Linked DNA regions of Homo sapiens. The protein of the gene in region 1 purifies or fractionates together with the protein of each later gene. This does not show direct contact. Each region holds a gene or a part of one and is shown in the gene's direction. Other genes may lie near its edges. The genes, in order: KCTD19 and KCTD15.

Region 1 (3,810 bases):
CTCAAACTAGCTAGACTGTCACTACTGACCCATTCCAGAGGACACATCCAGTACCAAACACCTCCAAATAGGAGTGTTGTCCTGGGCAGGGATTTCTCTCCCCTTCTCCCCACCACAGGCCTTCTCCCACGTGGCCAATTTAGAGTTGTTCAAAGGCACTATTATTTTCTCCACTAAGACAGAATCTTGGGGGTTGAATCTGTAGGTGAAGTAAGTGGCAGATTCAAGCTCCTGTGATGCAGTCCACTGAGCATGGGCTTGGAGTGCTACGCTGCCCTAGCTGACTTTCCCTAGTTTCACTCTTTTCTTGCTACTTTGCCTACTGTCTTTCTGTCCATCACAAATCAGACCCAAGCTAAACCCTTTCTTCTTGCCATCCTCTCTCCCTCTCCTTCATCCCTGTCCCTCTCCCCGTTAGGTCTTCCCTCTGGCCTCCAGATCCCAACGTGGAATCCCTGTCTTCATTGTCCTCTGAACTCCATAGGCTCTGCCCATTGTAATCTTGTGCTGGTTTTTCCTGTGGTTTTGGATACTCAATGTCTTTCCATCTTTCTCAGTTTTATGAGTGCAGTCTACTTCTCTGTTCGCTTCTTTGGAGATCTCCCATGTTTCTTTTTGCTTTTCTTTGCAGAGAATCAGCCCTCCAGCCCTTCCTTTTCTTTCTTTCTTTCTTTTTTCTTTTTTTTTTTTTTTTGAGCTGAAGTCTCGCTCTGTCTCCTAGGCTTGAGTGCAGTGGCATGATCTCGGCTTACTGAAACCTCTGCCTCCTGGGTTCAAATGATTGCCTCAGCCTCCAGAGTAGCTGGGACTACAGGCATGCACCACCAAGCCCGGCTAATTTTTTGTATATTTAGTAGAGTTGGGGTTTTGCCATGTTGGCCAGGCTCGTCTCAAACTCCTGACCTCAAGTGATCGGCCCAGCTCGGCCTCCCAAAGTGCTGGGATTACAGGTGTGAGCCACCGCACCTGGCTAGCCCTCCATTTTCATGCATTCTTTCATATGCATGCTAGGTTCTAGAACACAAAATGGGGATGCATCAAACCAGCCTCTCCCCAGGAAGCTTGGTATAGGGGGAAGAACTGGCCTGAAACTGAGCCAGAGGCCTGCAGAGAGAAGTGAAAGTGTTGAGTGTCTGTGGGAACAAAGTGGGGGGATGACCCATTCTGGCTCAGAGAGGCTCCAGGCTCTTCAGGAAGAGAATGGGGAGGAGTATTCTGGGCAGATGGAACAGCGTACACAAAGCTGGGGAGGTGTCAAAGAACGTGATGTGTTTTTGGAGTTTTGTGGAGTTTAGTGTCACTGATGATGGGGTGTAAACATAAAGAATGATGGGAAATGAGGCTGGAAAGGTAATTTAGGCTGGGCGCAGTGGCTCATGCCTGTAATCCCAACACTTTGGGAGGCCGAGGTGGGAGGATCATTTAAGCTAAGGAGTTTGAGACCAGCCTGGGCCACATAGCAAGACCTCATCTCTACAAAAAATCAAAAAGTTAATGGGGTGTTGCGGCGCACAGCTGTGGTCCAGCTACTTGGGAGGTTGAGGCAGGAGGATTGTTTAAGCCCAAGAGGTCAAGGCTGCAATGAGCCATGATGATTGTACGACTGCACTCCAGCTTGGGCGACACAGCAAGGCACTAAAAAAAAAAAAAAAGAAAAGAAAGAAGGAAGGAAGGAGGGAGGATGGGAGGGAGGGAGGAAGGAAGGAAGGAAGAAATTTAGGATATGACCTCCAAAAGGAAGGAAATTAACATACTATTTCATTTAATCTTTACAACAGCTTCCAGATTTTACTGCCTCCACTTTGCCAGTGAGGAACCTGAGGCTTGGAGAAGTTACATGACAAGTGGAAGGCAGCAGAGGCTGGGAAAAGTAGGGGGAGGGAAGGAGATGAAGAGAATTTGGATAATGGGTACAAAATTACAGTCAGATAAAAGGAATAAGTTCTTGTATTTGGTAGTACGCTAGGAATACTATAGTTAATAATAATATATTGTGTATTTCAAACTAGCTAGAAGAAAATCATTGGAATGTTTCCATCACAAAGAAAAGATAAATGTTTGAGGTGATGGGTCTGGCCCAGTGGTTCATGCCTATAATCCCAGGAGGCCAATATGGGAGGATCGCTTGAGCCCAGGAGTTCAAGACCAGCCTGGGCAACATGGCAAAGCCCTGTCTTTACAAAAAACTTAAAACTTAGCTGGCTGTCGGCCAGGCGTGGTGGCTCATGCCTGCAATCCCAGTACTTTGGGAGGCTGAAGCAGGCCGATCACTTGAGTCCAGGAGTTTGAGACCAGCCAGGGCAATGTGGCGAAACCCCACCTCTACTAAAAATACAAAAAAATTAGCCAGGTGTGGTGGTGCACGCCTGTGGTCCCAGCTGTTTGGGAGGCTGAGGTGGGAGGATCACCTGAGCCTGGGAGGCGGAGGTTGCAGTAAGTCAAGATTGGGCCACTGCCCTCCAGCCTGGGCAACAGAGTGAGACCTTGTCTCAAAAAAAAAAAAAAAATTAGCAGGGTGTTGTGATGTGCACCTGTGGTCCCAGCTACTCAGGAGGGTGAGGTGGGAGGATCAGTTGAGCCCAGTAGGTCAAGGCTGCAGTGAGCTGTGATCATGCCACTGCACTCCAGCCTAGGTGATAGAGTGTGACTCTGTCTCAAAAAAAAAAAATGACGTGATGGATATCTTCATTACCCTAAATTAATCATTATACATTGTATCCATGTATTGAAATATCACATGTACCCCAAAAATATGAACAACTATTACATATCAATAAAAAGAAAACAGTTGCTAAGGGCTTGGGCTCCAGAGTCCTGGGTTTCATTCCTAGTATCTCCACTTACTTGGTGCACTTAGTCCCCTACCTCTTCCTGGACCTAGCTTCCCATGTGCTCAAAGGGAGTGATGATACCAGAGCCTACTTTGTTGTCAGGGGAAGATTGGAAGGATTCAGTTTAAAAGTCCATGGGTAATAAATGTTAGCTTTTAAGTGACAGAGTCAGAATTTACCCCAGATATGCTGAGTTCAAAGCCCTTGTTCTTTTCGTGTATACCCTACTCCCTCCATTGATTGTGAAGGACCCTATGTGCAATGCAAAGGAGAGTCTGGATTTATCCCATAGCAACAGGAAGCACTAAAGTTTTTTAAGATGAGGAGTGATTTGGACTCACCTCATATGTTTGCAAGATCACTGTGTGGAGAGGACCTGGGGGCTAGGGGACCAGGACTAGGGGAAAGGAAAGGAGAGAAAATGGAGAGGCAGGACGGGCACGGTGGCTCACGCCTATAATCCCAGCACCAGCCGAGGCTGGTGGATCATTTGAGGCCAGGAGTTTGAGACCAGCCTGGCCAACATGGTGAAACCCCATCTCTACTAGAAATCCAAAAATTAGCCAGGCATGGTGGTGGGCACCTGTAATCCCAGGTACTCGGGAGGCTAAGGCAGGAGAATCACTTGAACCCAGGAGGCGGAGGTTGCAGTGAGCCGAGATTGCACCACTGCACTCCAGCCTGGGTGACAGAGCGAGACTCTAATGTTCCCTTCTAATGCTGTGGAAAGAAATCCCAGGGTTCCTGGAGGTCCAGAAACTTCATAATTGACACTGGCTCTAATCTCAGTATACGTAAATTGTGGTCTTTCATATCTTTCTTCTCTCCCAAGCTGAGAGCTTCTTGAGGGCAGGCACAGTGTCTGACTGTGGCCCTGGTGATGCACAATGAGTATTTCTCAAATGAATGACAGACTGTCTTCCAGCGTTCCACGCACACACTGTCTCCCCCATTGTTCACTGCCACAGGAAAGCACTCC
Region 2 (3,810 bases), on another chromosome or scaffold:
ACTGAGGGACAATCTTATTTCAGGTGACTACGGCACAGAGGAGAGTTACTGAGTGCCTCTGGGGAGGAGCAGTAGAAAGGGTCCATTGGCTGATCTGCTTGCTCTGTGCTTCCTCCTGGCCACCTGGCCATCTCCTGATGCCTCGGGGGTATGTGATCCTGAGGGGTCTGGAATGCATTAGGCATAGACAACACCACTCTGGGAGTCTGGGGAGAAACTGTGAGGTACAGACTAGGCAAACAAAGACAGGTTTTCTCTGCTATTGGGAGCCACAGAGAAGAGGCGGCTTCCCAAGTGACTTGCCCTCATCCATGTGCCTGGACTTCTGCTGAACGGCTTCCCTGTGTCTGGCCAGATGCAAGCTGTATCTTATCACCATGGGGATGGTATTAAGAGAGGTCCTAGGTTCCCTGGCCCATGGAGGGTGAGGGGTGCTTTCTGAGCCTTGGTCCACAAGGCTGTTGCAAGAGGAGACACGCTTGGTAACATGGCTTGAAAGGAAAATACCAGGAAAATCTGGTTTGTTCTGAAATATTTTGGGGCAATAATGGTGAGCATATGTTTCAGTGCTGTCATTAGCCGAATTAGCAGACATGGAGCTGCCCAGAAAACACATGTGTGAGTGTGACTGTGTGTGTGTGCATGTATGTGTGTGTCATCTGCTACAGCCTGGAGGCCTGCTTTGGGGTGTGGAGACAGATAGAGAGATAGTGGCGGTGGAGTCAATCAGGGAGGGCTGCATGGACCTCGCAGGGTCTCAGAGAGCATGCAGAAAGGACAATTCTAAGTGTCTTTGACCCCATGGTACATGACTAGGAGGAATAAGCCTTCTCTGGTTTTGTCGATGCCTCCCGCAGATACTCTGGGCAGGGATGGAAGCCTAGATGCCTCACCGCAAGGAGCGGCCGAGCGGGTCCTCGCTTCACACACACGGCAGCACCGGCACCGCGGTGAGCCTGCAGGGTGGGCTGGGTCCCTGCCGGGAGTTCCCTCTTTCCCTTCTTCCCCAGTGCCTGTTTACTGGCTGTCCTTCCTTGGGACCATGACACTCCAGGTGGCTGTTGACTGGCTGTAGGATTATGTATTTTTGAAACAAAAATGCTCTTAATTTGATGTGAAATTTACTACATGTATAAAACTCAACGCCTTAGGTGCTGAGGAAGTCACTAATTTAGAGGTGTCTCGTTACTGAGACAAACTTGCAAAAAACCCCTGAATCCCAATTCACAAATTGGTGATTCGTTTGTCAGGGGATATTTCACATCTAACACATAAGCCCACGACCTTTAATTAGAATTTTGCAGTTTGTTTTATGCCCCTGGAGGCTGACACCTTGAAAAATTTTTTTTCTTGATTTCTTATTGCTAATAAGCATCTTTCTTTTTCCCTCTGGTACTTTGAAGAAAATGATGCAAATACACTTAATTACAGTGGTGGCCATAATTTGTCAGCTGAATATATGATCAGGCACGGGCAGAAGTGATCTGATTAGATCTGTGATCACACTCTCAATAAAGGGAGTGCATGGCTGTGTTGTGGAGAAACTCTTGTGTTCCGCTTTGAAACTCTTGTGTTCCGCTTTGTTTCCATCTCTAGGAGGGAGGAAACATGTCCCGGCTGTCTCTCACCCGGTCGCCTGTGTCTCCCCTGGCTGCCCAGGGCATCCCCCTGCCAGCCCAGCTCACCAAGTCCAATGCACCTGTGCACATCGATGTGGGCGGCCACATGTACACCAGCAGCCTGGCCACGCTCACCAAGTACCCTGACTCCAGGTAAGAGTAAGCCCCTTGAAACATCAGGCATGTGTGGGTCAGGGCAGCATCTGTAATCTGCTGCCTAGGGGGTGGGGTCTCTCCCCACTGTCACTCCACCCACCAGGGTCTCCAGGGTGCACAAGCTGACACAGCCTGAGGGAGCTAGGGTTGGGGAGTCCAAGTCTGCCTGTTGAAAGCTGCTATGCACAGAGGCTTGTGACCCTGACTTGGCGGCATTGGTAGTGCAAGGTGGAGCTCCTGACCCACCTGCAGGGGACTAGGGCTTATTCAGAGCCAGCCCAGCCTGAGCCTGCCGGCAGCGGGCAGGGGAGTCTCACGTACCTTCAAGGTTCCTCTGGAGGGAGACTTAGGCCCGGCCCCTGCAGGGGGTCATTTGTGAGTGATACTGAGTAGGTAAGTCTTGGGGGCATGGGGGTGGGTATTTAATCCTATTTTCTATTCCACCCCTGGGAAATTCACAAGGGGAGGGAAGAGGAGCTGTGGTGAGCTGCAGTGTGCCATCTTTGTCATTTTCCGTGGCCACTGCTGGGCCCTAGAGGCTAGCAGCAGGCTTCCCTTGGAGCTGGTGCTGCAGTGACTAGCTAGGAATGAATCACATACCTCATCAGTGGATAAAGGGTCTCTGGCCAGGACCCTGGTTGGGGGCTCACAGGCACCCTCCATGCTGCTGAACTTATAGGCTGCCCAGGCCCTTGGGCCTGCGAGAGGTTTGGGGTGCTGGGTGCTGCCAGCTCTCCTGCTCTTCCTTGCAGGGTGTTTCTCTCCTGGGTGAGGGACCTGCTTTCCCCGTTGGCACGGCAGCAGGGCTGACCCGAGTAGGGTGGGTCTTGAGCAGCTTGCTCAGCCGAGGATGTTTGCTCCTGGCACAGAGAGGCGGTCATCGCTCCCCTGGGGCTGCTGAAGGCTGAGCGTGGGAGGGCCAAGGCTGTGGGCATCACCCCTGTGTTATGCATTTGAAATAACAGGAGGAGTTAATTAATCCCCCAGATACTGAGGGATCATCTCTGGGGAGCATACACGGCAGGCTGCATTGTCACCGGTGTGGTTCCTCAGAGCAGGGAGGATGGTAGTGCGCAGAGGTGGCTTTCCAAGCCTGTTGGGGCTGCAGGGGAGCCTGTGCAGGTGCAGGCATGGTCCCTTGAGGAGGAAAAACTGGAAATGGGTGCAGTGTCTAGTTCCAAATTTGGAGAGTCTAGGGTACAGATGGTGACTGGTGTTCCAGTACCCCAGGTGGACAGAGACTCAGCCTGGGGCCCTGTGGCCTTGGGGCTTGTGGGGTGGGGACAAGAGCCACGGGGCCAGGTCAGCAGTGTTGGCCTGTGTGCTCACTCACAGAGCCCTGTCTAGGATGGGAGATAGATTCTGCTTATTTAATTTCCATTTTGCCTTCTGCGGCATTTCTGAGTTGTTTGAGATAGATCATCCCTTAATCGGTTGACGACGTTTGTGAGTGAAATTCATAAAACCTTTGCCCACAACCCTCTCTGAAGAGTTTCCTGAAATCAGAGAGTTGCCTGTCTGGAGTAATCACAGCCCAGGCCCTGGGGGAGGCGGGTGGGAGAGGCTTCTCATTCTGGGCTCTTGGCTGCTGCCTGAGAGCAGGAGGGCAGGGGGCCATCTCCCCCCACCCAGCCCCACTGTGCTGCTCACCCATTGCTTTGTTCTGCTGTGGGATGTGCTCTCATGGGGAGCTAGGGCCCCTGTGGCCCTGTGATCTGGCACTTGGGACCCTCCTGGTGTGCCCAAGGGGTGGCAGTCTATGTTTATTCTTCCCCAGGGCTGGGGCTCAAGGTGAATCTGTTGTTCTGCCTGGATGGCCTCTGGCTGCTGTGGGGGTGCTCTGTAGGCCTGAAGCTTTGGACTAGAGGCCAGGGATGGCTGACCTGCAGGACAATCAGGGGACAGGAGGCCAGGGGGCCTGAGAAGTGGGTCAGGCAGCTGTGCTGGCAAGAGCCCCTCAGATCTCTCTTGTCCTTCCTGTAGTGGATTATTATAATATAAGCAGTTTTCTACCAATTCTGGAAAAAATCAATCT

Evidence for each region.
Region 2: the proteins of KCTD19 (region 1) and KCTD15 purify together in Homo sapiens (affinity purification with mass spectrometry; one large-scale study listed by BioGRID and IntAct). This does not show direct contact.

Annotation. Positions count from the first base shown.
Region 1 is NC_000016.10:67,306,013-67,309,822, reverse strand, and holds part of KCTD19 (BTB/POZ domain-containing protein KCTD19), read left to right. Parts: intron 1-3,810. UniProt on the Homo sapiens protein: Transcription regulator which is essential for male fertility and for the completion of meiotic prophase in spermatocytes. Regulates progression of the pachytene stage of meiotic prophase and promotes the transcriptional activation activity ZNF541.
Region 2 is NC_000019.10:33,799,571-33,803,380, forward strand, and holds part of KCTD15 (BTB/POZ domain-containing protein KCTD15), read left to right. Parts: intron 1-23; coding exon of another isoform or gene 24-52; exon of another isoform or gene 53-148; intron 149-857; 5' UTR 858-884; coding exon 885-950; intron 951-1,596; coding exon 1,597-1,772; intron 1,773-3,810. UniProt on the Homo sapiens protein: During embryonic development, it is involved in neural crest formation. Inhibits AP2 transcriptional activity by interaction with its activation domain.